4 linked regions of the Homo sapiens genome follow. The protein of the gene in region 3 interacts with the protein of the main gene of each other region in a biochemical or structural test. Each region holds a gene or a part of one and is shown on either strand. Other genes may lie near its edges. The genes, in order: ASAP1, LRRK1, SNX9 and DNM2.

The links.
Region 1: the proteins of SNX9 (region 3) and ASAP1 form a complex in vitro, tested with the Homo sapiens proteins (one study listed by IntAct).
Region 2: the proteins of SNX9 (region 3) and LRRK1 form a complex in vitro, tested with the Homo sapiens proteins (2 studies listed by BioGRID and IntAct, with this or other methods).
Region 4: the proteins of SNX9 (region 3) and DNM2 form a complex in vitro, tested with the Homo sapiens proteins (2 studies listed by BioGRID and IntAct, with this or other methods).

What each region holds. Positions count from the first base shown.
Region 1 is NC_000008.11:130,111,671-130,118,694, forward strand, and holds part of ASAP1 (arf-GAP with SH3 domain, ANK repeat and PH domain-containing protein 1), read right to left. Parts: intron 7,006-7,024; coding exon 6,819-7,005; intron 6,577-6,818; coding exon 6,491-6,576; intron 5,326-6,490; coding exon 5,210-5,325; intron 5,076-5,209; coding exon 5,008-5,075; intron 4,345-5,007; coding exon of another isoform or gene 4,162-4,344; exon of another isoform or gene 4,144-4,161; intron 4,066-4,143; coding exon 3,958-4,065; intron 653-3,957; coding exon 424-652; intron 1-423. UniProt on the Homo sapiens protein: Possesses phosphatidylinositol 4,5-bisphosphate-dependent GTPase-activating protein activity for ARF1 (ADP ribosylation factor 1) and ARF5 and a lesser activity towards ARF6.
Region 2 is NC_000015.10:100,915,003-100,922,369, reverse strand, and holds the start of LRRK1 (leucine-rich repeat serine/threonine-protein kinase 1), read right to left. Parts: upstream 3,014-7,367; 5' UTR 2,919-3,013; intron 1-2,918.
Region 3 is NC_000006.12:157,938,222-157,945,245, reverse strand, and holds the end of SNX9 (sorting nexin-9), read right to left. Parts: intron 6,614-7,024; coding exon 6,499-6,613; intron 4,364-6,498; coding exon 4,272-4,363; intron 2,456-4,271; coding exon 2,408-2,455; 3' UTR 169-2,407; downstream 1-168. UniProt on the Homo sapiens protein: Involved in endocytosis and intracellular vesicle trafficking, both during interphase and at the end of mitosis. Required for efficient progress through mitosis and cytokinesis. Required for normal formation of the cleavage furrow at the end of mitosis.
Region 4 is NC_000019.10:10,819,056-10,826,079, reverse strand, and holds part of DNM2 (dynamin-2), read right to left. Parts: intron 6,101-7,024; coding exon 5,991-6,100; intron 2,293-5,990; coding exon 2,181-2,292; intron 1,024-2,180; coding exon 859-1,023; intron 1-858. UniProt on the Homo sapiens protein: Catalyzes the hydrolysis of GTP and utilizes this energy to mediate vesicle scission at plasma membrane during endocytosis and filament remodeling at many actin structures during organization of the actin cytoskeleton.

The sequences.
Region 1 (7,024 bases), on a different chromosome or scaffold from region 3:
TAACTTTCCAGAGAACTGAAACTCCACTCCACATTATAAAAAGTACAGGTTCTGGAGCCACGTGGACCTCAGATTGAATCTCAACTTTACCTCTTACCAGTGGTGTGACCTTGGGCTGGTCAGTGTATCTCATTGAGCCTTAGTTTCCTCTTCTGTAAAATGGGCACAAAAGCACATACTTCACAGGATTGTTGTAAGGTTAACACAAATAATGCACAAAGAGAGCCCACAGCACTGCCTGTCCTGCTCTTGGTACCTGGCAAATGGCATGGTCCCTATTTCAAGCTGCTCCTGACAACACGATCCGCGCCACTCAAATGTACCTTGCAATTCTTACCTCAAAGCTGGCTAGACTATCAGCTCTGAGGATGGAGTCACAAGCCCTTCGAGGATGGAGTCACAAGCCCTTCTCAAAGCCCATACCTTTCCCGGCGTTCCTAGGAGGCAGAGGGGGAGCCTCCGTGGTTGGTGATGTGGGCGAGTCTGTGCTTGTGGAAACGAAGATCTGGTTGGTGAAGGCTCCATAGGAGAGCCGCTGTTTGTCCCTTGGAGTGCTGAATCCTGGCAGTGCCAGCTTGTCCTGGGGGGAGATGCTGGAGGAGTGGCAGAAGCTCTGAGGTCTGGGTGAGCGCTCTTTCTTGATAGGGCTTGGCTGGCAGATGAAATAAGAAGGTGAGATAATAATCAAGGACCACCCTTCATGTGTACAGAGGGCCTCCGCAGGGCGGGCTCAGGTGGGAATCTGGGTTCCTGTGGCTCTCTGAGCTTTATGAGGTCAGCCACAATGAGCCTCATGATGCTGACACAGTACAAGGGAAGGATCTAGATACCACACTTTCATATCGTTCACCACTATGAATAATCACACTAGTGAAACACTGGTTAGGATCAGCAGCAGTGTCAGAAGCACAGTAAGGTCACAGGTAGATTTAACTTTTAATAAGCAAACACCTTCAGAATGCAGGACTTTTTCAGCAACATTTGAATAGTATTTCCACCTATTTCTAATTTGCTACATTAAGTTTTGTTCCCTGCTCAACCCTTTAACGTTGAAGTTCTTTCTTTGCCTCTTTTCTCATTTTATATCCCCCTGCAAAGTAAACGGATTCACACCCACTGCCCGCTACACAATAATTACTTACAGATCTGTAAATACAACCCCAGTGACTTGTGTTCCAAACCAATGGCCCATGAGGTATCTCTGGTATTTGCGCTTGTGGTGATGGCATTAGGATCCACTCAACTGCCCAGGTTAGAAACCTCAGTGTCACCTGGAGTCCCTGGTTCCTGCATTCCCCTTGGAAATATCCCTTGAAGCCCCTCCTAGTACAGGTGCTCACCAGCTCCCACTGCAGCTCTAGCCTCCAGAATGGCCCCTTCTCCAGTTTCCTTCCTCCAGTCCATTCTCCACACTGCAGCCAGAGCTGGTGGGAAACCTTGCTCTTTAGACAATAAACCTCTGTGGGCTTCTGACTGCTTGCACAAAAACCCAAAGGCCAAACCTTGCCCACAAAGCCATCCTGATCTGGTTTGCCTGACTCTACAAGGCAGCTGCCTGCCTCTCCCCACCCAGCCAGGTGAATGCATCTCACACACAGTGCTTCTCTCCATTCCTCCGACATCCAGACTCTACCATGACTCCTTCCCTTGGCACGTGGTGTTCTGGAATGATGCATTCCACCCCACTTCTTTCCCTGGCAAGCTTCCACCTATCCTTAGAAACCCATCTCCAATGTCCTTGAGAAGGCAGACTGAGGCAGCTGCTTGGTCCTCTGAATAGCTCTCAGGAATTTTTCCATACTCTTATAATGATTATCACATTGTATTATAATTTATTTCCTCTTAAAGTTGTTAAGGCTTGAGGACCTCTTTGGCCATTCCTTACATCCTGCCTGTGATACAGGAAATGTCCAATACATAGGCAATCAATTAATGCATGAATGAACTTTCAGAGGTAGTTAACTGCTTATAAGGAAAACTCAGTGAGAACTGGGTTTAATCCTCCAAACTGTCTTTACTAGCTGGGAGACTTTAGACAAGTTGCTAAATTCTCTTTGTAAGTTTTCTCTTCTGTAAAATGGGGATAACAATGTCCCTTATGTACTTTTTTTTTTTTTTCCTCTGAGACAGGGTCTCACTCAGACACCCACACCCAGGCTGGAGTGCAATGGGACAATCTTGGCTCATCACAGCCTTGAGTTCCTGGGCTCAGGTGATTCTCCCACCTCTGCCTCCCGGGCAGCTGGGACCACAGGCGCACACCACCACGGCCAGCTAATTTTTGTATTTTTTGTAGAGAGAGGGTTTCGCCATGTTGCCCAGGCTGGTCTCAAGCTTCTGGGCTCAAGGCATCCACCCGTCTCACCCTCCCAAAGTGCTGGGATTACAGGTGTGAGCCACAGCACTCAGTTATGGACTTTCAATAAAGATGATCTGAGATAACGTAAGTGCTTAAATCTGTCTAATCCATATTTAATGAACATCATTCCTTAATGACAGGCATACATTCTGAGAAATGTGTTAGGTGATTTCGTTCTTGTGCGAACATCATAGAGTATACTTACACAAACCTAGATGGGAGAGCCTACTACACACCTAGGCTATATGGTATAGCCTATTGCTCCCAGGCTACAAACCTGTACAGCATGCTACTATACTAAACATTGTAAACAACTGTAACACAATGGTAATTACTTGTGTATCTAAACATAGAAGAGGTAAAATAAAAACATGTTATATAAGATTAAAAAATGGTACATCTATGTAGGACACTTTCCATAAATGGAGCTGGAAGGACTGGAAGCTGCTCTGGGTGTGAGTGAAGGCCTAGGACATTACTGTACATTTTTATACAACTCAGTGCAGTAGGTTGGTTTATACCAGCATCCCACAACCATTTGAGGAATGTGTTGCACTACCGTATTATGACATCTATGGCATCACTAGGTGATGGCTATTTTTCAGCTCCGTTTTAATCTTATATTGATCCCCATTGAGTATGCAGTGTGTTGTGGACTGAAATGTTATTATACAGTGCATGATTATGTTCAATAAATAACAACTGTTATTTACTTACTAATTACTTGTTTTGAAGGTTAATTTTTTTTTTTTTTTTTTTTAAGATATAGGGTCTTGCTCTGTCATTCAGGTCAAGAGTGCAGTAGTACAATCATAGCTCACTGCAGCCTCAAACTCCTGGGCTCAAGCAATCCTCCTGCCTCAGCTTGTCAAATAGCACCACCACGTTTTATTGATTGATCCATTTACTTTGTAGAGACAGGGTCTCACCATTTTGCTTAGGTTGCTCTCGAATTCCTGGTCTCAAGCGATAGTTCTGCCTTGGCCTCCCAAAGCGCTGGGATTATAGGCATGAGCCACCATGCCTAGCTTCATGGTTAATTTTATGTGTCAACAGGCTACAGTGTCCTGGTGTTTGGTCAAATACTAGTCTAGATGTTGCTGTAAAGGAATTTTTTAGATGCAATTACCATTTAAATGAGTAGATTTCGAGTCAAGGGAACTACCCTTCATGATGTGGGTGTGCCTCACCTAATCAGCCAAAGAAAGGCCTTAAAAAGACTGAGGTCCCCCAAAGGGTAAGGAATGCTGCCTCCAGACTGTCTTTAGCCTGAAGACTGCAACATTAACTCCTGCTGGGATTTCCAGCCTGCTGGCCTGCCCTGTGCATTTTGAACTTGACAGCTCCTTCAATCATGTGAGCCAATTCCTTAAAAAAAATTTCTCTGTCTCTCTCCCTATCCTGTTGGCTCTGTTTCTCTGGACAACCTTAATATAGCTGTTAAATGGTGCCCAATAAGGACTGAACAACATAAATGGCCCTGATACATTGGATCATAAAACCACAATCAATCAATCTCACCAAAAATGGATCTTGTCTACACAGACTAGAAAAGTTGGGGTAGTTGTTGAGAATTCGAGGACATAATTTACACTCACTTTGTCATCCAGATCATCATCGCTCTCATCTATCTCCTCCTGTCGAAGATTCCACTCATATTCTACGTGGACGTGTGGATTGAACTTTCCAGATTTAGCCTGGGAAAGCTGGAAGGAACAGCAAATGTGCACCATTTTAATTTAAATGCTGAAACATCCCAATATTATACAAACACTGAGCAAATCCCACCTTATTCCTAGTTTTCAATGAATCATCTGTAGGTGTACTATAGGCAACACTCTGCTTAGACAAGCTGCACTGCTATGTGACAGGCTCAAGAAGAAATGCAAACAATTGCAGGCAGAGCCTTCTTTATTTTGATGACTTGTCTCCAAAATTAAAAGCTTTCTTCTTATTAAATGGGCCTCAAACTTGCAAATTCCTGGCTGAAAGGCAAAACGAGTCTTTGAAGTTTAAGACGTAGGCTTTTAAGGTCCCAGTCCAATCTGTGGCCCCATTTTCTCATTCATAAAATGGGAGCAGGGATAATTGTCTCAAAGGATTCTTTTAAGAATAAAAAGGCCCAACTGGTGGGCCTGGAACCTGGCACTTAGCAGAAACTCAAGAGAATCACACTAATGTGAAGGCCCTGACTTGCTAAGCAAGAACTAGTAGGGTCAAAAAAGGTGAATGTGCACAGGAAGGGGAGGGGCTGGGAGAACAGTGTGTTAACATTTTGAAGACCACTACTCTCTGAGCTTTACTTGCCCAATTTTTGGAGCAGCTTCTCAAATAATTCTTTACTATTAAGCTGCAGAGAAAGTCTAATGGTCTGGGAAATAAAAAGCATGACCTCAATGCACAAGTCGATCTGGTAATAATACTTGTGTAATGCCTTTCACCTCCTTTAACTGCATTCCAAAAACATGTGGATGACAAATTTATCATTTTACCACTTTTTCTAATGTAGCACATTGCTCATCTGATTTTCTTTAGCAAGTGTTAAAAAAAAATGAATCTGCATTTTTAATATTCAATTCTAGCTTCTCAGAATGACACTTTTAAGGCAGCCAATGTCTAATAAATCTCCCACGTCCATTTTTGCTTACCAGATCTTCACACTGGGTAGCTTTTAGTCTCTTTGCTATGTCTAGGGCAGTTTCTCCAGCCTGGTTAACTGAAATAGGAAAAAAATTAATTTGCATAATTATCTAGGAAACACCTTAAGAAGGCAAGGAACAATAATCAAATTACAATGTACCATGCAACACACGCTTACTACAGTCATGAAGACACTAGACACACTCTTACCTATATCCACAGTGGGCTTGCTCCTGAGCAAAAGCTTCAAACACTCAGGTTTACTGTACATACTACAGTAGTGTAGAACTGTGTTTCCCAGGGCCGTCTGCTTATCCAGGTTCCCACTGAAAAATTAGATGATGATTAGAAAAAAATGACTTACTTTATAACTTAAAACTATAGATTAGCCACTTATTTTTGTGCTGACAACTGAGTCAAATTTGAGACCTAATTATTATAATAGAGAAAATTATGATGTTTCTAACCTAGATTTATAAGCAATACAGTGATAACAGGCAGTATTTATTTAGAGTGCCAGGTCCTATGGGACAGACACTGTTTCTTAACATTTACATGTATTAGTTCATTGAATCTTTACAACTATATGATGGGGTAAATACTAATAATAACCGCTTTTACAGATAAAAAACCCTGAAGCGCAGAGAGGCTGAAGTGCTTGCTTTCAAGATTTTCAAGATAGGGATGGTGAAGCAGGGATATTTGAACACAGGTAATCTATCTCTGGAGCCAATGTTTTGAGCCACTATGCTATATTGTCTCTGAGGAAGAAACCTGGACTTTTATACAATTTGGCTTGTGTCTATGTACCATTTTTCCTCTATGGGTTCAAATCCCCTCACTATTTTGATCTTCTTCTTTAGATGAGCTCTAGTTCCTCCTCATCATCTGTTGCTTACAGAACAGATAAAGAGAATAAAGAATCCAGCAAGTCCAAACTTCCTATATTCACTCTTATACTTCCATCAGTATATCCCAAACTTGAATGAGCTATTGATCCAGCCACACACACTGCTGCTGTCTTATATTAAATTTAGGAACAATGAAAACTCACAAATATGGTTGACCTGTGCTGTTAAGTCTTCTCTCTTTTAACCTCTCCTAACGGTTAGCAAATGTGTCCAATCTGTGCAGCAGATTTTTGGATACAGACATAATTTTACATTTATAAAGGCCAAGAGATGGCAAACTACAGCCTGTAGGCCATATCTGGTTCACTGTCTGTTTTTATAAACAAAATAATAAAGTTTCATTGGAATACAGCCACACTTGCTTGTTTACACATTGTCAGTGGCTGCTTTCACACTACCATGGCAGAAGTGAATAGCTCTGACAGAGAGACTTCATGCCTGCAAAGCCAAAAATAATTTTTATATCTAGCATGACACAGAAAAAGCTTGCCAATTCCCGATCTAGGCCACTGATAGGACTGGTTTGTGTTAATTTATAAGGCATATTCAGGTAATTCAACAGAGAAAACAAAAACGATACCAGTTTTGTACAAGGAAGTCAACCAAATGGAGAGATGTCTGATCTGCAGTTCGGACGGCAAGGTGAAGGGCTGTCTCCCCAAGCTCCTAAAAAGGGAAAGAAAAGTATAAGTAAGTCAATAATATGCTCTGCCAAGGGAGGCTTCATATATATCAGTTGCCCCCAAGTAATTATAAGGAGCACACCTCTTCACTCTCATATTCTCTTGATTTAGACATGGCCACCCAATGTATAAGAATCTCATTATATGGTATAATGTTAAAATAAGTCACCTTTTAAACTGATTTTCCACATTACTTTTTATCCAATGATTTTAGTGAGGCCTTACCTGCCCAGGTTCCAGCAGTGGTTCCATTAGCTCTACCCCTTCTGCATAGACTTGAATTAGTGCAAGTAAATCCCTGGATTTGATGGCCTCAAGCAATTCATTTAGTTTAGCTGATGAAGTTGAACAGGTCTTCCTTGAAAACCTATGATCTACATACTTTGCAGTGATATATTCTTTTCGTACAGTCCTAAAACAGAACAAAATAA
Region 2 (7,367 bases), on a different chromosome or scaffold from region 3:
AAAATCACTTTACCAGTGGAAGACTCTGCCCCTGGAGCAGTTTTAAAATTCTAGTTACTATTTTGGCTTATATTCTAAGGTAGAAGTTTTAAGATGAGGTAATTCAAATTTTGCTCAATCTTTGCCCTCAAACGGATCTTTGCTTCCTCCTGCTTCTTTTGGGTCCAGAGAGGTGCCAACAAGTGATGATTACAAGTTACATGTCTTCATTATACACCCTAAAGAGGGCATCAAGAGGTTTTCAGCAGTAATGATGGTTTAAATGATTTTTCAAAACCTCATCAATTTCCTTTTGCCAACTATTTATACCTGCATTAATGAATAAACCTAAACATTTAATGGAAAAGAAAATAGATGGGTGCGGTGGTTCACGCTTGTAATCCCAGCTCTTTGGGAGGCCGAGGAGAGTGGATCACTTGAGGTCAGGAGTTCGAGATCACCCTGGCCAATATGGTAAAAACCCATCTCTACTAAAATTACAAAAATTAGCTGGGCATGCTGGTGGGCGCCTGTAATCCCAGCTACTTGGGAGGCCGAGGCATGAGAATCACTTAAACTGGGGGAGGTGGAGGTTGCAGTGAGCCAAGATTGCACCACTGCACTCCAACCTGGGTGACAGAGCAAGACTCTAGAGAAAAGAAAAGAGAAGAACCTGTCATTCATTCTACAAATGTCTTATTGAGTTCTTTCTATGAAGAGGGAACTTCATGAGTTTGTGAAGCTGGTGGGGGAGCAGACAGCTAAGTAATTGCTATAAAGCTTCTGACAGCAGAGAAGCCCAGATATTTTAGGAGGCTTGGGAAGGACTGTCGATATCAGTTAGAAGTTAGAAGTCCCTTGCAAGCAAAGCATGCTAGACATGCTCATTCATATCACCTAGTTCCTTTTTGAAACAAAATCCTGGTCAAAATGGTTAGCCCATGATTCTAGAAATCTCTTGAGTGCTATTTGCATCCCTTACTAGCATTGGCTTTTGCCTATAAAATGTGTTTAATGGGTTTGGGGGCATCCAAATATCTTGGAGCTGCAGGCCAGAGAAATATGTTGTTCTCAATCCCAGATGAGCCCAAAAAGGGTGGAGGAGAGAAATGCTCCATGAGTCTGAAACCACAGGTAAGTTAGGGTTGTCCATTCCCCATCCAGTCACTCTACCACCATGCACGGGGTATCTCCCTGTACAGTTATGGGAATGAGGGCACAGCAATAAGCAAGACAGATCAGTCTCTGACCCCAAGAGCTCCAGTGGAGACCACAAGATAATTAAGGAGAAATTAAACAGATAAAGAAGGAGTACAGAATGGGGACTGCAGGGAGGCTGCAGAGTGAGGGATGTGAGAGGGAGCGTGGGTTTTCAGAGGGTGACCAGGGAAGACTTTCTGAGGCTGTGTGAAGAGTCAGGAGGCAGCAGTGCAGGGGACCAGTGCTGGACAGCAAGCTCAGCCAGTGTGGCCTGGGGCAATGGCCTGGTGGTCCGAGACAGCAGAGGCTGGATCAGCTGGGGGTGTGAGGAGAAGGAGGTCTCCTGGATTGCGTGCCAGTTGCAAGGAGAAGCTACTGAAGGACTCCATAAAGAGGACTGATATGGTCTGATTTACCCATTTAAACACACAGACACACACAGACGCACGCTGCTATATAGAGAATGGAGGAAGGGGGAACTGAAATCCTACAGTAAAGAGATGCTGGTACCCTGGACAAGGGGCAGGGTGGGGGGTGGGGGCATAAGAAAAAGGGGACAGATCAGGACACATTTTAGACATAGATTCAACAGACTGAATGTTTTTTATCTGAGGATCCGAGTTGACTGCGAGGTCACTGCCAGAGACATCGACTTTTGGGAGAGGGAAAGGTTTGGCTGACCGCAAAACCTCCTTTAGGAACAAATTAGGTGTGAGGTTAGTTTGTTATATTATTTTCTCTTTCAGGACATAGGCAAAGATGAAGAGAATCAAATCATAAAAGGCGTTTAATGTTAACATTTTCCAAAATTGTGCATGTTCTAGCTATCCCTTTAATGTCTGGGCATTTTGATACCCTGTGAGTGGCTGGCAAACTCTATCATTAGTGTACACGGTGAGAGGTTTGCTGAAAGCTATATGCCCCCGTTTCTCTACCTGTTGCAGGGGAAGTGTTCGTGGGAGAAAAACTTCGCGGCCTCATACTGTGAAGGGGTAGGTTGAGATGGCCACGGGGGTTCTCAGATTCTCCACCAGCGTCTCCTCGCTGACCCCGGCCTTCCTAGGCTTCCTTCCCGCGTCCCTGCCTGCCAGGAAGGTCCCCTGTAGCTTGCAGAGACCATGGTAGACAGAGCAGTTGTATCTGCGCCAGCCAGAGACCACCTGGGCAAGAAGCGTGACCCAGACATCGAGGAGGGTGAAGCCTCGCTGGGCCGCCCCGCAACCCCAGGAAGCCCCGGACCAGCGAGAGGCTCCCGGGCGGTCTCTTGCCGACACCCCGGCACGGGCTCACCCGCGCGCTCACACTCCGCCCGCTCCCCGCTAAGGGACTGGGTTCGCTCCAAAGGCAGAGGAAACCTATGGGCTCCCCGGCTCGTGTCTCCCGACTCGTGTCTCTTGCCTCCGCTTCCCAGCTTTCCCGACCCTGCCCGGACGGGGTTTCGGGGTTCCCTGCTCGGGCCCCGCGCGCTCCCCTCCCACAGGCTGGCTGGGCTCCGGGCGCGGCGGGAGGCAGCGGGGACGTGAGACCGGGGTCGCCCCACACGCCCTCCGCGCCCCTCGGGCCGCGGCCCCTGCGCAACGGCCCCCCGTGCCCGACCACGCGGCCGCCCGGAGCGCAGGGGCCCGCGGGCAGGCAGAGGCCGAGGCTCCCCGCGGGCGCCGGGCGCGGGCTCTGGGTTCCCCGGGCGGGGCCGGGAGGCAGCCAGGCCGCCGGGGGGCGCCGGCAGGAGCGGCGCTTACCTGAGGCGGCGGCGGGGCCGGGTGCGGGCGCTCCGGGACGCGGGGCCGGGCGGACACACTGGCGGGGCCGGGGCCTGGCCGTCCCACCGCCGTCTGCCCCCCGCGCCGGGGCCGGGCCCAGACGCACTTCCTCAATCCTGAGGCGGGCGGGCGGGGAGGGCGGCGCGAAGAGCGCGCAGAGCAAGGCCGCCGCCAGCTCTCCCAGGAACCGTCGCGAGGCGTCCCCTCGGCGGCCGCCTCAGTTTCCCTGGCCGTAAAACGCGGGCGATGGCGCTCGATGCCCCGGGAGACGCCGGGGTCCGCGGGCCCTTCCGGCACCGGGTCCTCCTTCAGGTTCGGGCACCCGGCTGCCTCCACGCGGGGCGAGCGCGGCGATGGGATCGGTCCGTGCTGCGCTCAGCCCCGCTTTCGCTATCCCTCTGCTCCAGGGGCAGCAAAATCAGCAGATGAGCCCCCAGCGCGCCTGCGGCCCACACACTGCGGCCGTAACAGTTAAACAGACGGGGAACATTCATGTGCGTAGAGCTCTTCACGGGGCGATACAGAAATGTGTCGTTCTAAAGCGTTAACGACCTGCAATTTGCATATCCTCCAACACATGGATTTTACTGATTCAATTATGGATGTGTGCAAAGAATCTGCTGCTCGGTGAGTCATTGTTAATTGTCGGCTTTGGGGGGAATACATAAAACGTGGAATATTGGCAATTTATCGTGTTTCGACCTTTTATAAAGGCGTCACCAGGCTGCTGAGGCTAATACAGAAACGCAGACCATAAAAAAGATCTGCGTCCACGCTGCAGGCGGGCCTCACGCTGAGCTCCCCGTGTCGACCCGGGGACAAAGCCTGCTCAGGAAGAGCAGAGGGTTCCACGCCCTGCAGGACCAGCGCCCTGGGCCCCTCTCCTGGAAAGTTATGACTCGCACGTTCCCAGGATTTAGCGCACATCTCCCCCACCCTCACTGCCATTTCACAGAACCGGGGCAGCCGCAGGGCTCCTGCAGGACCTCCCGGACGCCGCGGGGCCGTGTTCCCTTGAGCGGCTTCTTGGGTCCCTGGTTGGAGAGGGGACCACCGAGCAGCTTCGCTCTGCTCCTGGGAGGCTACTTCTGCCACTGGACGACTTTCCAAAAGGGTGAGCGCAGTTCTGCAATCCTGTTCTCACCCCTGAGGGCCTCACACCAGTTTGCAGGAGCCAGCAGTGTGATTGCCACCGACAAGTTCCCAACAATTTGCAGGGCGTGGTGTCCTCAGTGCTGAGAGAGCCCCGCGACGGCGGTGCAGCTCCTCCAGGGCGCGCAGCCCCGCCACCTGGCGCCACCGCGAGGGAGCGCAGGCCCAGGGCCCGGGCAGACGCTGGAGGGGACGCGGCAGGTGAAGATGGGGCACCTCCACTTCCCTTCTAAAGGAGCCTGGGAATAGGCTAGGAAATGTCCCCACTGTAGAAGACAGCAGGAACATCTGACACGCGGATAACCTGTGCTGAGCTCGTTATATTCCCAGCATTTAATTCTAGCCATTAGGCATGCGTTAGCCACAACTTCGCATAGGAAGGTTATTGCAGGTAAGTTAAGACTCCTTTCCACTTCTTCCTAAGGGTCGCTGACCCATGGTTCTCTAGCTTTTGCTGGTAATCCCACCCAGATTCTCAGCACCCTAGGTTGGAATGACCCCTCCTGAGGTGGGTGGGGTAGCTGGGAGGCACCTCCCTGAACTGACTTTTCTGCCTTTTTGAAGGTGCAGTGGCTGAGCGCTCCTTCAGTGTTTTCCGGTTGTCTTTCTTCAGCCCAGTACGCAGTTTCCTCAGACAGTCTTCCTTGAGCAACTTCCTAAACGCCCTTCATTATCCCCCTTCAAGCTCATGCCTAGGAGCAAGGAGCAAAGCCATTAGAAAGGCTTCATCCACCAGCAGGAGAAGCTAGGACATCCCAAAGGGTCCACTTCTAGAGAGGTGCCAACCCCCACACGCACACCAGGCACACAAATGCATGTGTGCACACGCATACCACACCCTCCAATTGTCCCCAGAATGGCTCCCTTCAGGGAGTCATGTTCCGGGACACCAAATGAGGGAAAATATCCTTCTCCTACAGTTTCCTGCTCACATTTGGATTGAGAAATGGGATGTCTCTAAATAATGTGTCTAAATTCTCTTAACATAAGTGCATATGTTACGAGAGATCTGATCCCAGCCTCCCTTTTTTGTTAAAGTGGTGGTGCTTTGCCACCCATGTCAAAATGATCTGGGCTTTCCACATCAAATGCAAGGGATGAGCTTGGAGGACATACCCCAGTACCAGCAATGATCTTGAGCCAATGGCAGCGTCAGCTCACAACGGGGTGATTGAGGCTTCTTGGTTAGAAGCTTTAGAAACTTGAGGTCAGTAAAACCCAAATTGATCCTTTCTCTAGATCCTCTAGATTTCTCTAGAGGAAAAGGTGACAAAAACAGACACTTGTGCTCACCGTCAGGGGCACAATGCTGTCCGTCAATCCTCATGCAGTCCTCCCCACCATTTCGCACACTGACACCATCACTACTTTATGATAAAAGGAGACTCAGGCAGCTTAGATAACAGCTGAAACTCAGCCAGCTATGACATGGAACCTCTGAGGCCCAGCTCCTTGCCTGGTCAACCCCCAAGCCCACAGAAATGGGTTTCACACTCAGGCAAAGCACTGGGCCCGACTGACTGAGCAAATGTAATTTTATGCTTACATTATTGATCCTGCTTTAATATCAGCCATTTCGTACAGGTCTCAGAAAGAGAAAGGCCTGCCATCGAATTCAAATGACTTTGGTCTTTAAATGAAAAAGCACAATGTTTCTCAAATATCCAATTTTATTTTATCATTCTCGCATTGTGGGATGCGATCTGCAGCTAGGATCGGAATTCCCAGGCCTATAGATTTTTAAACCACACCACAGGGGTAAACCTTAAAAGAAGTGAAACCTAACACTATATATATTTCCATTTCTAAATACAGTATATTACAGAAGTTTAAATATACCACCTCTGTGTACTTACAACTATAAAAAGATACAATAACTCTACCAATTATAAATAATGTAGCATTTCATATTAAAGACATTATCGTACAATGGAAGAATAGGAACCCTCTAACGTATCACTATCAAGGTTAGTGTCTATATCTACTTGAGATAAAATACTGAAAATTCAGTGTATGAAGCCAAATCCTGATTTAACAAGTTATTGGTAGTATAAGTGATAAGTGTTAGCTGATGAAGGGAAGGCAAATGTGGTAATTTATATCTCTGACAAGGGTGATAGGCCCATTTTATACATGGTTTTCGTTATACACACACTGGTTCTGTTACGGGCCCTCATTTTATTATTGCCCTCCCCAACTTAATTTGCAAACTTAAGCACTACTTTCCCAATTAGGAAAGTACTAGTTAGTAACCATAAAAGTATCCGTCGGATAACACATTTGTTTTTGTTTTTGAAGCTATATGGGAACACTTTCAGTTTCCCAAGTTAAAACATGAAATTGCACATCATCATTTGGATCCCCAAAGAGGAAAAGAAAAATTCACAACCTGCCAGTGAAATACTCAGGCCACTTGGATGAAGACCGAGGTCCTCCATAGAATCCAGGTGTTATTTACTAACTAATCAGAAATTAATATCAAAATAGGACTTAAAAATAACAAGGCTGTGTTATTACAGCAGTCTTTCCAGTTGTGTACGCTTTACTAATCTAAATTGGGTAACAGAACTGGAGAAAAGGAAGACTACACAGACTTATCATAAGCTGTTAGTGAACGTGATAGAAATGCGTAATTTGTTAAAGCGAATTACAGCTCTGATTTGTCAAATGAGGAGGTGAATTATCCTAGGATTTGCTATGCTGTTGTGGCGTTAGAAGATTGGATCTTTAGCAGCAAAGGTAACCTCAACAATATTTTCTGCTTAAGAAAGTGCCTTGGTTAAGGTAGACCGTGATATCGTCTTTGACTAAGCTCTCTGGGCTATTGATTCTGTCATATTCCAAAGGCAGTATTGGTTTGAAGCCGAATCTCACGGTCAATGTCAACATGCAATCCACAAAGACCCTGGCGCCCTTCCACGGTATGCACTAACCAAAACTTTCTCACTGTGAAATCCTTTTTTTAAAAACAAGAAAACAAAAAACAAAAACCAAAAAACCTTACTGTGAATCCTTTCCCAAGGAATGGTCCCACCTTCACCTCGGAAAGAGGCGTGGCTTGCTCTGTAAGCAGGTCCACCCTGAGGAGACCGCTGGTGCAAGAGCCCTGCTTGCAGAACACACAGGGGGTTTTCCCACATTCTTACTGGAGTCAGATTCGGCAAAGCATTTCAAGCAACTGCTGGACACTTCAAATACCACTCCCTGTTAACAACGCCCTGAGTATCTCACTGTCTCCAGGATCTGGTTTAAAGGGAAACACAGAAATGGCCAACA
Region 3 (7,024 bases):
GTGAGTCATCTTTCTTGGTGACCCCAACACCTACAAACCATGCAGTGGGTTGACATCCCGGGACTGCTGCTCCTGGTGGGAGGCAACTGACGTCACTTGCTTGACAACGAGACTGACCTTTTCTTCCACCACGCCTTCATCTCTCCTCTCCAAATACTGACTTTTTTTCCACTATATTTGTAAAAGTTATGTGATTGTATGACTACAGCTCTTCTGTGGTACCTACAGGTTGATACAAATCATTAAAAATCAAAACATCAACGTATCTAAGAACCAAATGGTGCATGTGACTCCCCGGAGAAGGATATATATGCCATGTTGCCACTTGAAGGAGAATCTTCCAGGCATCAAATCCCGTGGATTCTCTTATTTTCTTTCACATTCCCTCTGCTTTTCCTCACAGTCGGCTACCACGCTCTGAGGAGCCCGTGCCATCTCCATTTCCCCCATCCCTTTTTCACTTTGCCTCACACCAGTCAAATCCAAATATCCGAGAGTCAGACACTGGGAGACTGTCTGCTTCTTGGCAACTCCCAGGTGGTTATGATACGCTTCCCGGACCGCAACACTGACCTACGGAACTGAAATGATGAATTCATGTCAGAAGAAATAGGATTTGGGGAAGAATTCATTACCTGGACCATTTTCAGCAGCTGGAATAAAAAGTACTTAACAACAACAACAAAAATCACACACAAAGTCCAAAAAGTGTTTTGAAAAAGTGCTTTGAGAATTTACTGTACAGTTTTTTTAAACAATTTATTTATATGTTGGCTTCTACATGCTCTTACATTCGTGTAAAACATTTATACATATTCTTTACAATTTGTACATATATTAAATGGCTATAGCATAAACATTGTTCTATGGGATTTTATAGAAGAAAAATCAAGTGGGGAGAATTACTTATGAAACATTAACAAAAACCCGTGATATTGAAGAACAAGATGTTCTCATATTCATTTGATTTCATCTACTTATTTTTGGTGTCATTTTATTGATGCTGGCCCAGACTTTCCATTTCCCGTAATTATTAGGTCAGAAAAATGAAAGCAGCGGGAGGGAACGCGGTAAGGCACCTGTGGGAGACGGGAGCGCTCCTCCGCAGGGGTGAGACGGTGGCTGCCAGTGTTGAGTTCGAGCTGACGGTGTGCCAAGGTCCTGTTTTGCTTTATGCCGTTAAGTGAAGCGCTGGAAGTGCTGGTGCTCAGAAACACCCTGTGTGAAGTTTCGGATGTAGTCGGGAAGGGCGCTGGTCTGTTCTTTCTCTCCAACCTCAGAGCGCCGGGGACTCTGTACACTGCTGAGGCTGCAGCCCTTCTCAGTCCCTACACTTTTCCATCTAATGGGGAGCTAACCTGTGCTTTTTCTCTTTGCTGATGACACCAACTGGCCATGAACCCGCCACCCAAGCCAAGCAGTGTGCCGTGGCCACAGCAGCGCTTCTCATCACGGTGGATGAGGAGCCAAAGAATAAGAAAGGGCCAGAGACGCCGGGGTGCTGGGTGCCCTCCTTCTCCCAGGCCCTCCCGAACACAGGCCTCCGCACAGCCACTCACCCGTTGGACCAAAGCCACAAAATTCTCTACAAAGTCCCTCAATTCTTCTAATGTATTCTTCATGGCATAAAACATGCCTTAACCAAGATTAGGAAGGAAGTGCAAAGAGAGAAAGCACTGGTCCTCACATAAGAGCAGCACATCAGAAATGTCGCTGAGGACATGGGTGGCCAGGGGTATCTGCTCATCTGCCAGGCTGTGGGGTCCCCCTGGAGGGACATGGGATGGCCCACCTGCCACACACCACGATGGCACTAGCAGCCCCAGGGGCCCCCAGCGTCCTCCCTCTTGAAGTGTAAGCACTTGAGCTGTAACTGTGGCAGTGAAAGGCGTAACGACTTCCCTCAATGACAGGAGCCCCAGAGGACTGAAAGGAGTTATAAAAATATACAAACATAGATATTTTTTATTCTGGCATAGTTCATGTTTTTAAGAAAGTAATTAGTAATTAATTATCTGACACTGGGTAAGAACTGGAAGATTGTGGGAGACTTATAAATTATATAAGACTTATAATTTATAAGACATATAAATTATGACTCTATGTAAAATATCAGTGGGGAGAAACCCCTCATTTTCCATTGAAAATTCTGGTAACTTTTAAGTACTTTCCAAAAATAGAGACAATTTCCACTGGTTTAAATAATGGATGCGGAAATGAACAAAAGACCATCCCTAAATAACTGACGCATTTAGGGTGGCTAATAAAATAAATGCAGTTTTTTGCAACTCTTTCTTTTTGGTTTTGTTTCCTTTTTTTTCTGAATAATAGGGGAAAAAAAGTTTTGAATTGCATTGCCCCAAGTCAGGAGAAAGCACGCGGCATTCTCTTCAAGGCCCGTTCTGTCCTACATCACTGGAAAGCGGCTGAGGGCCTGCCTCAGCTTTTCTGCAATCTGACAAGAAAGCAAAACAAAACAACGTTGAGATATCACTCCCATTACGACCTCACAGTGTTCTTTATTCACAACTCCAACAAGTTAAACATGACACAAATTCCAATTCTTTAACTGGTCTTTTTGGCACCAGCCCTGCCCCGCGTTGCTGCTGGACAGACCTTAACCCCGAATGACACCGGCAGCGCTGGGGCCCGAGCTGGCCCTGGTGGTCCCTTCCCGCCGGGAGGCGTCTACACATGCTCCCCACCTCTGCCCTAGCGGCGCTTCCAGACCACCTGCTTTTCCTCAGATGAGCTGGGGGCTCAGGCCTTCATGTTTGCCTAGAGCCCCCTCTTTCCTGGAGGAGTATGAGCTTCCAGAATCCCCTGAAGGTTGTGTCGCCCTGGCCACACCCTGCTGTCACTGCTGAGTGTGCAGACAGCACGAGCCTGCCTGTGAAGCTAACGAGGCGCTGCAGTGGTCTCTGCGCCAGGGCCTCTTGCTCCTTGAAGGCACAGCTGTCTTATCCATCCCTGGATGCTAAACATCCAGCACGAGGGCTTGGTATATAAGAAACACTCAATATATGTCTGCTCCATGAACACATACACAAATTTTAGTAACTTAAGGGTTACTTTGCCATAAAACTTAGATCTAAAACCTAACAATGTTATATCAGCTACTTAGGTTTATGCAAAGACAGTGATGAAATACATGGTTTTCTATTCTGAATTACAATGTCACTATACCATACCTGGACTTGAAAATCAATAAATCAACACTATCAAAATTTTGAGAGTTGCCCTTGCATTATTTTCTCACACAGACAAATGTAATCTGTTATATTCTAATATACAATGAAAGGCAAATCCACAATGGCACCAACTGACGGGAAAAGTGTGCATTTAAAGAGCATAGGGCCCACGTCCTGTAAGGGAGGACAGGGCTTAGGTGAGTTCCTCCCGTAAGTTAGTCTCCCAAACCAACTGTCCAAGACACAATTCACAAATATGCATTAGGTACATCAAGCACAGTTCTCCTTTAAGAACTGGCTGCTGGAGACAGGCGTTTTCAGCAGTGTCCAGCTCGCAGATGCCACCAGTATGGCTGAGCAGAGGGCTTGCTCACCACTCCCCATGAACATGGCTTAGATCCCATGGCCAGAGGGGAGCTGGGTAGGCAGCAAGGCCGCCAGCGGAGGCTGGATTCTACATTACAGACCTTACCTGCAGGTGTCTGAGGGAGACATGCTACTAGATTTTTGTTTTCTATAGACTCTGGTAAACAACAAAATTACTAAGCAGAGGTAAGAAAAATTTAAGTTTTCGTTATTGTTTTGTGAATAAAACCATCCCACATCTCGCTTTTTTGGTTTTCTCTCTGCGATTTCCATGGCGCACTGTGAAAACCTCATTCACAAAAAGCAAAGGCTGCCTTTGGTTTCCTGTGTGGTGCCAGGCTCCTGTTCCAGCTGCCAACGGAGTCCCAGGGACGGCTGGGTGACCTCATCTCATTCAGCACCGTTCCTGGTGCACAGAGGCACAGAGAGGCTGTGACGGGGGGAAGGAGCTGCACAATAAGGAACTTCTTGGGGCCTTGCAACTAGCATCCAAGACCCCTGCTTCAGAAGAAAATCTTTTTTAACCCAGTGTTATCCAAAAAGCAAAGGGCAGATGGAATTAGGAGATTAAAAAAATCCTGTCCAAAATTTAGGCTCCTTTGGTTTATTACTTAGGATTAAAGAATACAAACAGATTAACTTTACATGGTCAAAGTGGTTTACCAGGAACCCTCTCCTCAAGCACATGCGAAAGGCACGTGGACGCCCACTCACCGTTTCGTAAAATTGCACTTGCTGCTCCAGGTACAGGCGGATGACACTGTTGTAATCATAGATCCGGTTACTGTGAAAGTGATTCATCTCAGCTACAACCCAAATCAGAACATCAATCAGTTTTCCCTCAAGTTTTCAAATGACAACACCTGGTTTCTCTGCTCAGTTACAATTAATCATCAACCTGACCTAATCTGGTTGGCTGCTGTTGTCAGTTCTTGGTAAATCACTTTACTAAGAGGTTAGAAAAACAAGTTGAGCTGGGCGCAGTGGCTCACACCTGTAATCCCAGCACTCTGGGAGGTGAGGTGGGTGGATCACCTGAGGTCAGGAGTTCAAGACCAGCCTGGCCAGCATGGCAAAACCCCATCTCTACTAAGAATACAAAAATTAGCCGGGCATGGCAACAGGTGCCTGTAATCCCAGCTACTTGGGAGGCCGAGGCAGGAGAATTGCTTGAACTCAGGAGATGGAGGTTGCAGTGAGCCGGGATTGCACCACTGTACTCCAGCCTGGGTGACAGAGCGAGACTGTCTCAAACAAAACAAACAAAACAAAACAAGCTAATGACAAACATTACTTTCCAGTAAATGAATGACTTTCACTGTCTTGCATATTCAAAACTATAAAATCCAATACAGATAAATCACCCAAATGCAGCCTATTACTCTAACAGAATCGATCAAATAGAAAATACTTGGTCATATTTGTTACAGATGACTGCAGTTCAAAGCCTCTGGTGTGTCTGCACTGGACCTAGCAGGCAGCTGGGGTCCCTGCCCCGCTCCCTCCTGCACAGCAATTGCTTCAGCAGGTTTCTGGTGAAAGGCTGGGCAGCGTGTGGGACAGCGGGAGACCCTTCTTCAGTACGGGAAGCCTTGCTGCCCCTGAGCACCAGCGACGCTGTCAGAACTCAACCTCTCACAGGGCAGGAGGACTGGATGCTGAGGGACAACTTTCTTCATGTTTGCTGAATACATGGATTCCTTCTTTCTCTGTCCCCCCTGCCCCTGCCCCCAACTCTAGAGGAGTCTTCGTCATCAGAGGACCTCATTGCCTCCCTCGGATGCCTCCTATGCCGCCTTCTCCCAAACCCTCCAGGCTGAGAAAGCCAGCGGCTGCACAGATTCCCATGACATGCAAACTGTTCTACATTTTACATTCAGTTACTTGAAGTTATACAAAGCTTTGTATTTCTCAATTTGGATAACCTCAAACACAAGTTCAAAACCAAACTCCCCATTTCAAACCCTTCAAAACCCGAAACTTCAATCAGGGTTCCTCGTTTTTGCCGTAGTGGCCTGGCTCTGGACACCTCCCTCATCCTTCTCTTTCTCCCATGAATGCCCCAGTCTTGAAAGCTGTTCCTTGGAAAAGCCTGCAAATGTGCTTCATTCTCTTCTCCCCAGTACCACATCTTTAGGCCCTCAAAGCTCAGACTACAACAGTGAGATGGTCTTCTGGCTGGGCTCTTGGACAGTGTCTGCATCTTCCAATCTCCCCTCCATAACCAGCAAATCCTTCTCCCTTGAGGATTGATTTTTTTTTACTCCCTTTTAATGGCTTCTTAATGCCTGCATCAAGTCTAGAGCTTTCAAGTTCCTTCACAATCAAAATTTATTTCCCAATAACCTCTAAGTATGTTTTACTCTTTCATGCCCATGACACAATCTAGCACCACAATTTTGTGGCTTTTGTTCCTAACAGAACACGCTCTCCATTCTCTGCCCATCCAAGTGCCATCCACCCATCCGCCAACAGGAAAAATCCACTTGCTGCCCTCATCTGCTCAAAAACACTCAAACCTATAGAAATTCATCTTTTTTTTTTCTTGACACAAAAAAATTGTGCCTAAAATGACACACCCAAACCCCTTCACATTCCATGATCCCAAGGCACGCAGGTTACAGACTGCTAAAAGCTGGGCTCTGGCATTTAATAGAGCATTATGATACCACAGATTACAAAAGGAATCTTAAATGTCTCTCAGAAATAATAAAATGTACAGTTTTAATCAAGCTGTCATCTATAGCCAGATAAGGTGGACAGGTGAAAAATTAAATAAATATTACAGATTTTCATCAGCACCGGGATCCTGCAAACGAGGGGCTTAAAAGGTCTCACTTACTTAACTGCTGCTCACATCTGGATTTCTCTCTATCAAGGGAAACTTTGCTGGGGAAAAAAAAACTTCCACCAGCACCTCATAAGGACCCTTTCATCTTACCTTGCAACGCGTAAGACATGATGCTGACTCTCTTCACCATGTTCTGTTTGTCTTGTAGGGTGATTTTACTTGTTGCAACTAGTTTGTCACTTTCTTTCACTTTTTCTATTGCTCCCTGTGAAATATAAAATGCAACAGTATGAATAAAGCTGAAATGATTAGTCATTAGTTTAAAATATAACAATGCTAATATATTCTATAACTGATTTGCTACTGAACAGGAAATACCTCCACAAAATAAGAAGAGAGGAAAGCATCTAAATTTAACTTCCTTCAAGTCCCTTGGAAGCAAAAAGGTTGCTATTCTTGACAAATGTCACTAAGCTAAAATGAACAGTTTTATGCTACAACAAAAGAGAAAAGCAAACAGCACACCATCTCTGTAATATTCAGAAGCCGCTGCCATTTGAGGAGTAGCACGTAATGGAAATCAGGCATTAGCAGGTTTTGGAAGTCATGTGGCTAGGTACAGGGCAGCATGTGCACACAGGCACTCTCTCTCTTTTTTTATACAACAGAATATTTT
Region 4 (7,024 bases), on a different chromosome or scaffold from region 3:
GTTCAAAGGGTGGTGATTCATTCAAATTTGTTGTTGCTGTTGTTGGACACAAGGTCTTGCTCTGTCGCCCAGGCTGGAGTGCAGTGGCATGATCATAGCTCACTGCAGCCTCAACCTCCTGGGCTCAAGTGATCCTCCTGCCTCAGCCTCCCAAAGTGCTAAGACTACAAACAGGTATGGCCTAGGGTGCCTGGCCTCCTTCTCATTTTTTTTTTTTTTTTTTTTTGAGATGGAGTCTCGCTCTGTCAACCAGGCTGGAGTGCAGTGGCACGATCTTGGCTCACTGCCATCTCCATCTCCCAGGTTCAAGTAATTGTCCTGCCTCAGCTTCCCGGGTAGCTGGATTACAGGCACCCGCCACCATGCCCGGCTACTTTTTGTATTTTTCTCTCTCTCTCTCTCTCTTTTCTTGAGACGGAGTCTCACTCTGTCGCCCAGGCTGGAGTGCAGTGGTGCACTCTAGGCTTACCACAACCTCTGCCTCTTGGGTTCAAGCGATTCCCCTGCCTCAGCCTCCTGAGTAGCTGGGATTACAGGCGTGAGCTACCGTGCCCGGCTAATTTTTGTATATTTAGTAGAGATGGGGTTTCACCATGTTGGTCAGTCTAGTCTCGAACTCCTTAGCTCGTGATCCGCCCGCCTTGGCCTCGCAAAGTGCTGGGATTACAGGTGTGAGCCACCGCGCCCAGCCTAATTTTTGTATTTTTAGTAGAGATGGGGTTTCACCGTTTTGGCCAGGCTGGTCTTGAACTCCTGACCTCAAGTGATCCGCCCGCCTTGGCCTCCCAAAGTGCTGGGATTACAGGCGTGAGCCACCGCACCCAGCTACCTCCTTCTCATTTTTAGTTCTCCACTCACATTGTTGATCATGAGGTGCATGATGGTCTTTGGCATGAGGTCGCGGATGGACTTGTTGATGATGGCCACGTATGAGTCCACCAGGTTGCGAATGGTCTCCACCTGCCGCTCCAGTTGGGGGTCCATGGAGAAGGTGTTCTCCTGGGCCCCATCCTCGTTTTCTGCCTGCAAGCGGGAGGGGAGGTGCTGAGGGGTGACTGTGGCCTGGGCCAAGTCCTGGTTCTCTGGAAACCATCTGCCCTATTGTCCCACCAATAACTGACCTCAGGCTGGCCCCTGACAGCCCCACTGGCACCAGATAGGCCTGCTTGCCCTGGGCCAGAGCTGCCCAAACAATGGGGTGACCCTGGCTGATGCTGGGGTGGATCCCCTCACCTGGGCATTGGAACGTTGTTTTTTTGTTTTGTTTTTTTTTGACACAGTCTTGCTATGTCACCCAGGCTGCAGTGCAGTGGCACAAACACAGTTCACCGCAGCCTCAACCTCCCAGGGAGAGCTCAAGTGATCCTCCCACCTCAGCGCCCTGGAGTAGATGGGATTACAGGGGTGCGCCACCATGCCTGGGTATGTTTGTATTTTTTGGAGAGAAGGGTTTTGCAACATTGCCCAGGCTGTTTTCGAACTCCTGGGCCCAAAGGATCTGCCCACATTGCCTCCCAAAGTGTTGGGATTGCAGGTGTAAGCCACCACACCCAACCTTGGGACATTTTATTTTATTTTTGAGATGGAGTCTTGCTCTGTCGCCCAGGCTGGAGTGCAATGGCGTGATCTCAGCTCACTGCAACCTCTACCTCCCGGGTTTAAGCGATCTCCTGCCTAAGCCTCCTGAGTAACTGGGATTACAGGCACGTACCACCATGCCTGGCTAATTTTTGTAGTTTTAGTAGAGACGGGGTTTCACCATGTTGGCCAGGCTGGTTTCGAACCCCTGAGCTCAAATGATCTGCCCACCTCAGCCTCCCAAAGTGCTGGGATTACAGGGGCGAACCACCCACCGTGCCCGGCAAGGCATTTTAATATTGGGGCCAAGGGTGGCCATGTTCACTCTACCTCAGGATGGAAGGGGAAAAGAGAAGAGAACAAAGCAAGTGGGACCCCATCCCCTGTGTGCCCCGGTCACTGGCTTCCGTGAGGGAACTTTCTGGGCCCTGATGACAAAGTACCCCCAATTTCTCCTTTGCTTGCTCAAGTGGGCATCTGCTACATGATTTCAGAGACTCCTGGCTAACATGGCCTGAAAATGACCTGTCCTGGGGAAAGCCAGCCCTGCTTCCTCTCCCAGGTGGGGGCTCTGGGCCTGGCTGCGCAGGACGGCTCCTCACCTGGTCCTTCTCGGGGTAGACGCCAGCTCGGAGGAACGAGGCCTTCCAGCTGTCCACGTCTTCCTGGGAGTCACAGGCCAGCTCGATCTGCCGCAGGTCCTTGTAGACGTTTCTGCGGGGGGGTGGGGAAGGAGGGGCACAAGCTTGACCCTGCCATGGGTCTGGCAGACTGCCGAGAGGAATGGGCTCTAGGGGTCTTTCTGACTGATCAGGAACCCAAACCCAACCCAGGCTTCACCTGGTCATGCTGAGGGGTCACCGTGAGTGACGCCTACACAGAAGAGCGCTGTGCACAAGCTCGGCAAGTGTCTGAGTTTCTTTGTTTCTGTTGGATCAGCTGACTCTTCTCTTTTCCTGGGCCCCCAGAGGTGGGCATGTGACCCTCGACACCAACTGTGGCTGGGAAGCTCCCACTGGGGCATTTTCAGGAAAGCCCAGAGCAGCACTGTCCACCAGAACTTTATTATTATTATTATTATTTATTTTTTTTTTTTGAGACGGAGTTTCGCTTTTGTTGTCCAGGCTGGAGTGCAATGGCGCAATCTCGGCTCACCGCAACCTCCACCTTTCGGGTTCAAGCGATTCTCCTGCCTCAGCCTCCCGAGTAGCTGGGATTACAGGCATGCGCCACCACACCTGGCTAATTTTAGTATTTTTAGTAGAGATGGGGTTTCTCCATGTTGGTCAGGCTGGTCTCGAACTCCTGACCTCAGCTGATCCGCCCACCTCGGCTTCCCAAAGTTCTGAGATTACAGGTGTGAGCCACTGTGCCCGAATGTGTTTTGTTTTGTTTTTGAGACAGAGTCTTGCTCTGTCGCCCAGGCTGGAGTGCAGTGGCGCGATCTTGGCTCACTGCAAGCTCCGCCTCCCGGGTTCACACCATTCTCCTGCCTCAGCCTCCCGAGTAGCTGGGACTACAGGCACCTGCCACCACCCCAGCTAATTTTTTGCATTTTTAGTAGAGACGGGGTTTCACCGTGTTCGCCAGGATGATCTCGATCTTCTGACCTCGTGACCTACCTGCCTCGGCCTCCCAAAGTGCTGGGATTACAGGCGTGAGCCCCCGTGCCCGGCCTGTGTGTTTTTTATAAAAAAAGTTTTGGCTGGGCACAGTGGCTCACGCCTGTAATCCCAACACTTTGGGAAGCTGAGGCAGGAGGATCAACTGAGGTCAGGAGTTTGAGACCAGCCTGGCCAACATGGTGAAACCCCGTCAATACTAAAATACAAAAAATTAGCTGGGAGTGGTACTGCATGCCTGTAATCCCAGCTACTCGGGAGGCTGAGGCAGGAGAATCGCTTAAACCTGGGAGGTGGAAGTTGCAGTGAGCCAAGATTGTGCCACTGTCTCCAGCCTGGGCGACAGAGTGAGACTATGTATCAAAACAAAACAAAAAAATTTTTGTAAAGTTTAGGCATGGTGGCTCATACCTGTAATTCCTGCACTTTGGGAGGCTGAGACAGGGGGATTGCTTGAGCTCAGGAGTTGGAGACCAGCCTGAGCAACACAGCAACACCCCCATCTCTACAGAAAATACAAAAATTAGCTGGGCATGGTGGTGTGCGCCTGTAGTCCCAGCTACTCGGGAGGCCGAGGCGGGAGGATCACTTGAGCATGGGAGGTGGAGGCTACAATGAGCTGAGATCATGCCACTGCACTCCAGCCTGGGTGGGTGACAGAGGAAGACTCCATCTCAAAAAAAAAAAAAAAAGAAAAAGAAAAAGAAAAAAGAACCAGGGTCTCAAAGCTGGGAGATAAATGGAATGGATGCTAAACAGTGCTTGCAGATGGTGGTCTACAGGCCAGGCCCCGTGCCACATGCCACGCACATTTTCCTGTCCCACATCCAGGTGTGGTTAAGACAGCCAAGCTGCCCACAAAGCCTTTAAGTGAGAGTTGGGTTTGTGGTCAGCAAGTGGCTGCCCCGAACGACCTCTGGATGAGGTTGTGTGGGGAGAGGCATGCCCTTGTAGCTCCTCCTCTCCTTCCTGCTGCTGCCTGGGACATCATCACAATGGCTGGAGTCTGGGCAGCCATTTTGGACAAAGAAGTAGAAGTCGGGGTTTTGGGCCAGGTGCAGTAGCTCACACCTGTAATCCCAGCACTTTGGGAGGCCGAGGTGGGTGGATCACCTGAGGTTGGGAGTTCGAGCCCAGCCTGACCAATATGGAGAAACCCCGTCTCTACTAAAAATAAAAAATTAGCCAGGCGTGGTGGTGCATGCCTGTAATTCCAGCTACTTGGGAGGCTGAGGCAGGAGAATCGCTTGAACCCAGGAGGCAGAGGTTGCGGTGAGCTGAGATCGCACCATTGCACTCTAGCCTGGGCAACAACAGCGGAACTCCGTTTAAAAAAAAAGTCAGGATTTCATGGCAGGCCTGTCCCACCGCAGAGCTCGGCTTCTGCATATCAGGTGGAATCCTGAGGAACATGCAGGGCCTGGACCCTGATGCCTGTGGAGCTGCTCCACTTTGCCCGGGATACTAAAGTCTGGACTTAATTTACACAAAAAACTATCAACCATCTTATCTTGTTTTTGCAGCTACTACTCTGGGTTTCCTGAACCTGCTCTTAAAAGATATATCAGATAATATTGTCACCCTCCCTGTACAGGAGGCACACGGCTCAGGGACCTGGGACAGCTGCCAGGTGTCATATGGCCAGGGGCAAGCCTAGAAGAGCTATGAAGGTTTTCACGGCCAGCTGGTGGACAAATGGGTCTCGAGCTTTAGGCCAGCCAGAGCAAAGCAGGAGGGAACCAGGAGACTCAGCTGGAGTTGGTGGGTGTAGCCAAGCAGTAGGCAAGGAGGTTCTGGGGCCAGCAGGGAGGACGTCAGTGCCTGCCTACAGGTCTCAGGGTACCACCGGGCCTTTACTGACAGCTAATCCCTGACTCAGGTGGGCCCTGCTTCCTGGATGAGCGTGATTGTGTGAGCATGGGAAGAGCCCTCCTGCCAGCTGGGTTTCTTCCTGAGAGCAGTGTCTCTGCTAAAGTCTCCAGCTACGCCTCATGGGACAGATGTACTGTGAGCTTCCTGGGGCCTCCCATTCTCCAGCTTCACTCTCCTGGGAGCTCATCTGGTTTCGTTCCTTGAAATACCATCCACGCAATGGTGACTGCCCAGTTCACATCCCAGACTGGAGCTCGTTCCTGGACATCACACTCCTCGATCTACCCAGGTGCCTCCCTGATGCACCCTCTCCCTTGGCATGGCCTAAATGGAGCTCTTGGCTGTCTCCAGGCCTACCTGCCGCTGCCTTCCCCACCTCGGCCAATGGCAGCAGCTGGGCAGTGCAGGAGCTCAGGCCCACGTACTCAGGGTCACAATTGGTGCCTTTCTCTCTCATATCCATGCCCACCAGGGCTCCGCCTGACTCTTCTACCCAGAATCTGCACCCTCCTTCCCTATGGGTTCTGGCCCCATCATCGCCCACTTGGACAAGGCAGCGGCCTTTGCCCTCGTCCCCCATCTCTCACCCTCTCATACTGTTTCCCTCTCAGCCACCAGAGGGCTCCTGCAAGCACCTGAGCCAGGTCCTGGTCACCCTGTGCTCAGAACTCTCCATGGCTCCCACTGACTCGGAGCCTGCCTTCATCCTCATCTCTGCCCAGAGAGGTCATCTCTGACCCAGCACGGGAAGCATCCCTGGCATTTGCTATTTCTCACGTGACTCCCCTTTCTAAAAGCTGGGTCCCAAGGGCAGGGACTGCTGACAGCCAGGTGCTCAGTGCTCAGTGAAGGTTGTGGAGTGTGAATGAGGCCATTGGTCTTCACCCCGAGCCATCCCCAGGCCCCTGGGCCCCTCACCTCTGCTCCGTGTTGAAGATGGCGAAGACGTGCTTGTTGGACATGAAGCCCTTCTCCACATCACGGATCTTGAGGTTGTCCAGAGGCAGCATGTACTTCTTCTCTTTCTCCTGAGGGTGGAGGGAAAAGAGTCACCCTGAGCGGTCCACGTGACAACTCAGGATGCCCCAGGCCAGAGCGTGTAGCATGCGCCACCACCAGCCCCGGGGGCTTCTCAATGCTGGTCGCTGCTGTATATGAGCCCATCTGCCGGCCCTTCCCCGTCCGTCACTCTGTCCCAGCCACGCTGCCCTCCATGATGCTCCCTGAGTATCCCACCTGGGTTCCTACCCCAGGGCCTTCGGACGACCGGGCTACTGCCTGATCCTGACACTTGCATGGCTCCCTCCTGCCCTAACTCTACCCGCACCCTCCCCACCTCCATCCTCCTTTTCCCTCACACAACACGTCACGTATCCTGCGCTTGTTGACCTAGGTGCCTGACTGCCTGTGCTTATTGACCTAGGTGGCTGACTGCCACTGGACTGACTCAAGTTTCTCCAGGGCAGGGACTCCTGTTGAGTTCACTGCTGACATGTGGCTGACGGCACGCACAACACAACTGCCCCTCGCCTTGCACGAAGTGAATGGAACTTTTATCTGGGCTCCATCTTTGAAACGAGCCTAGGAGTGAGTTACCTCTGTGATGCCATTTTACAGAGGGGAAGACTGAGGCAGAGAGGAGCAGGGCTGGGATTTCAACCTTGGCCGCTTTAGGACATCTTGGGGCTGGATAGGTCCTGGGCCAGGTGCTGCAGAAGCCTTACTCCCTTTCTTTATTATTATCATTATCATTATTTTAATAGAGATGGGGTCTCGCTATGTTGCCCAGGCTGGTCTTAAACTCCTGGGTTCAAGCGAGCCTCCCAGAGTGCTGGGATTACAGGTGTGCACCACCGCACCTGCCCTATCACTTGCTTTCTAAGGTTGGCCCTGTTCAGGAAGCACCAAGTGCCAGCCACGGCTGTCCAGACTGCTAGGGAGGCAGCTCAGAG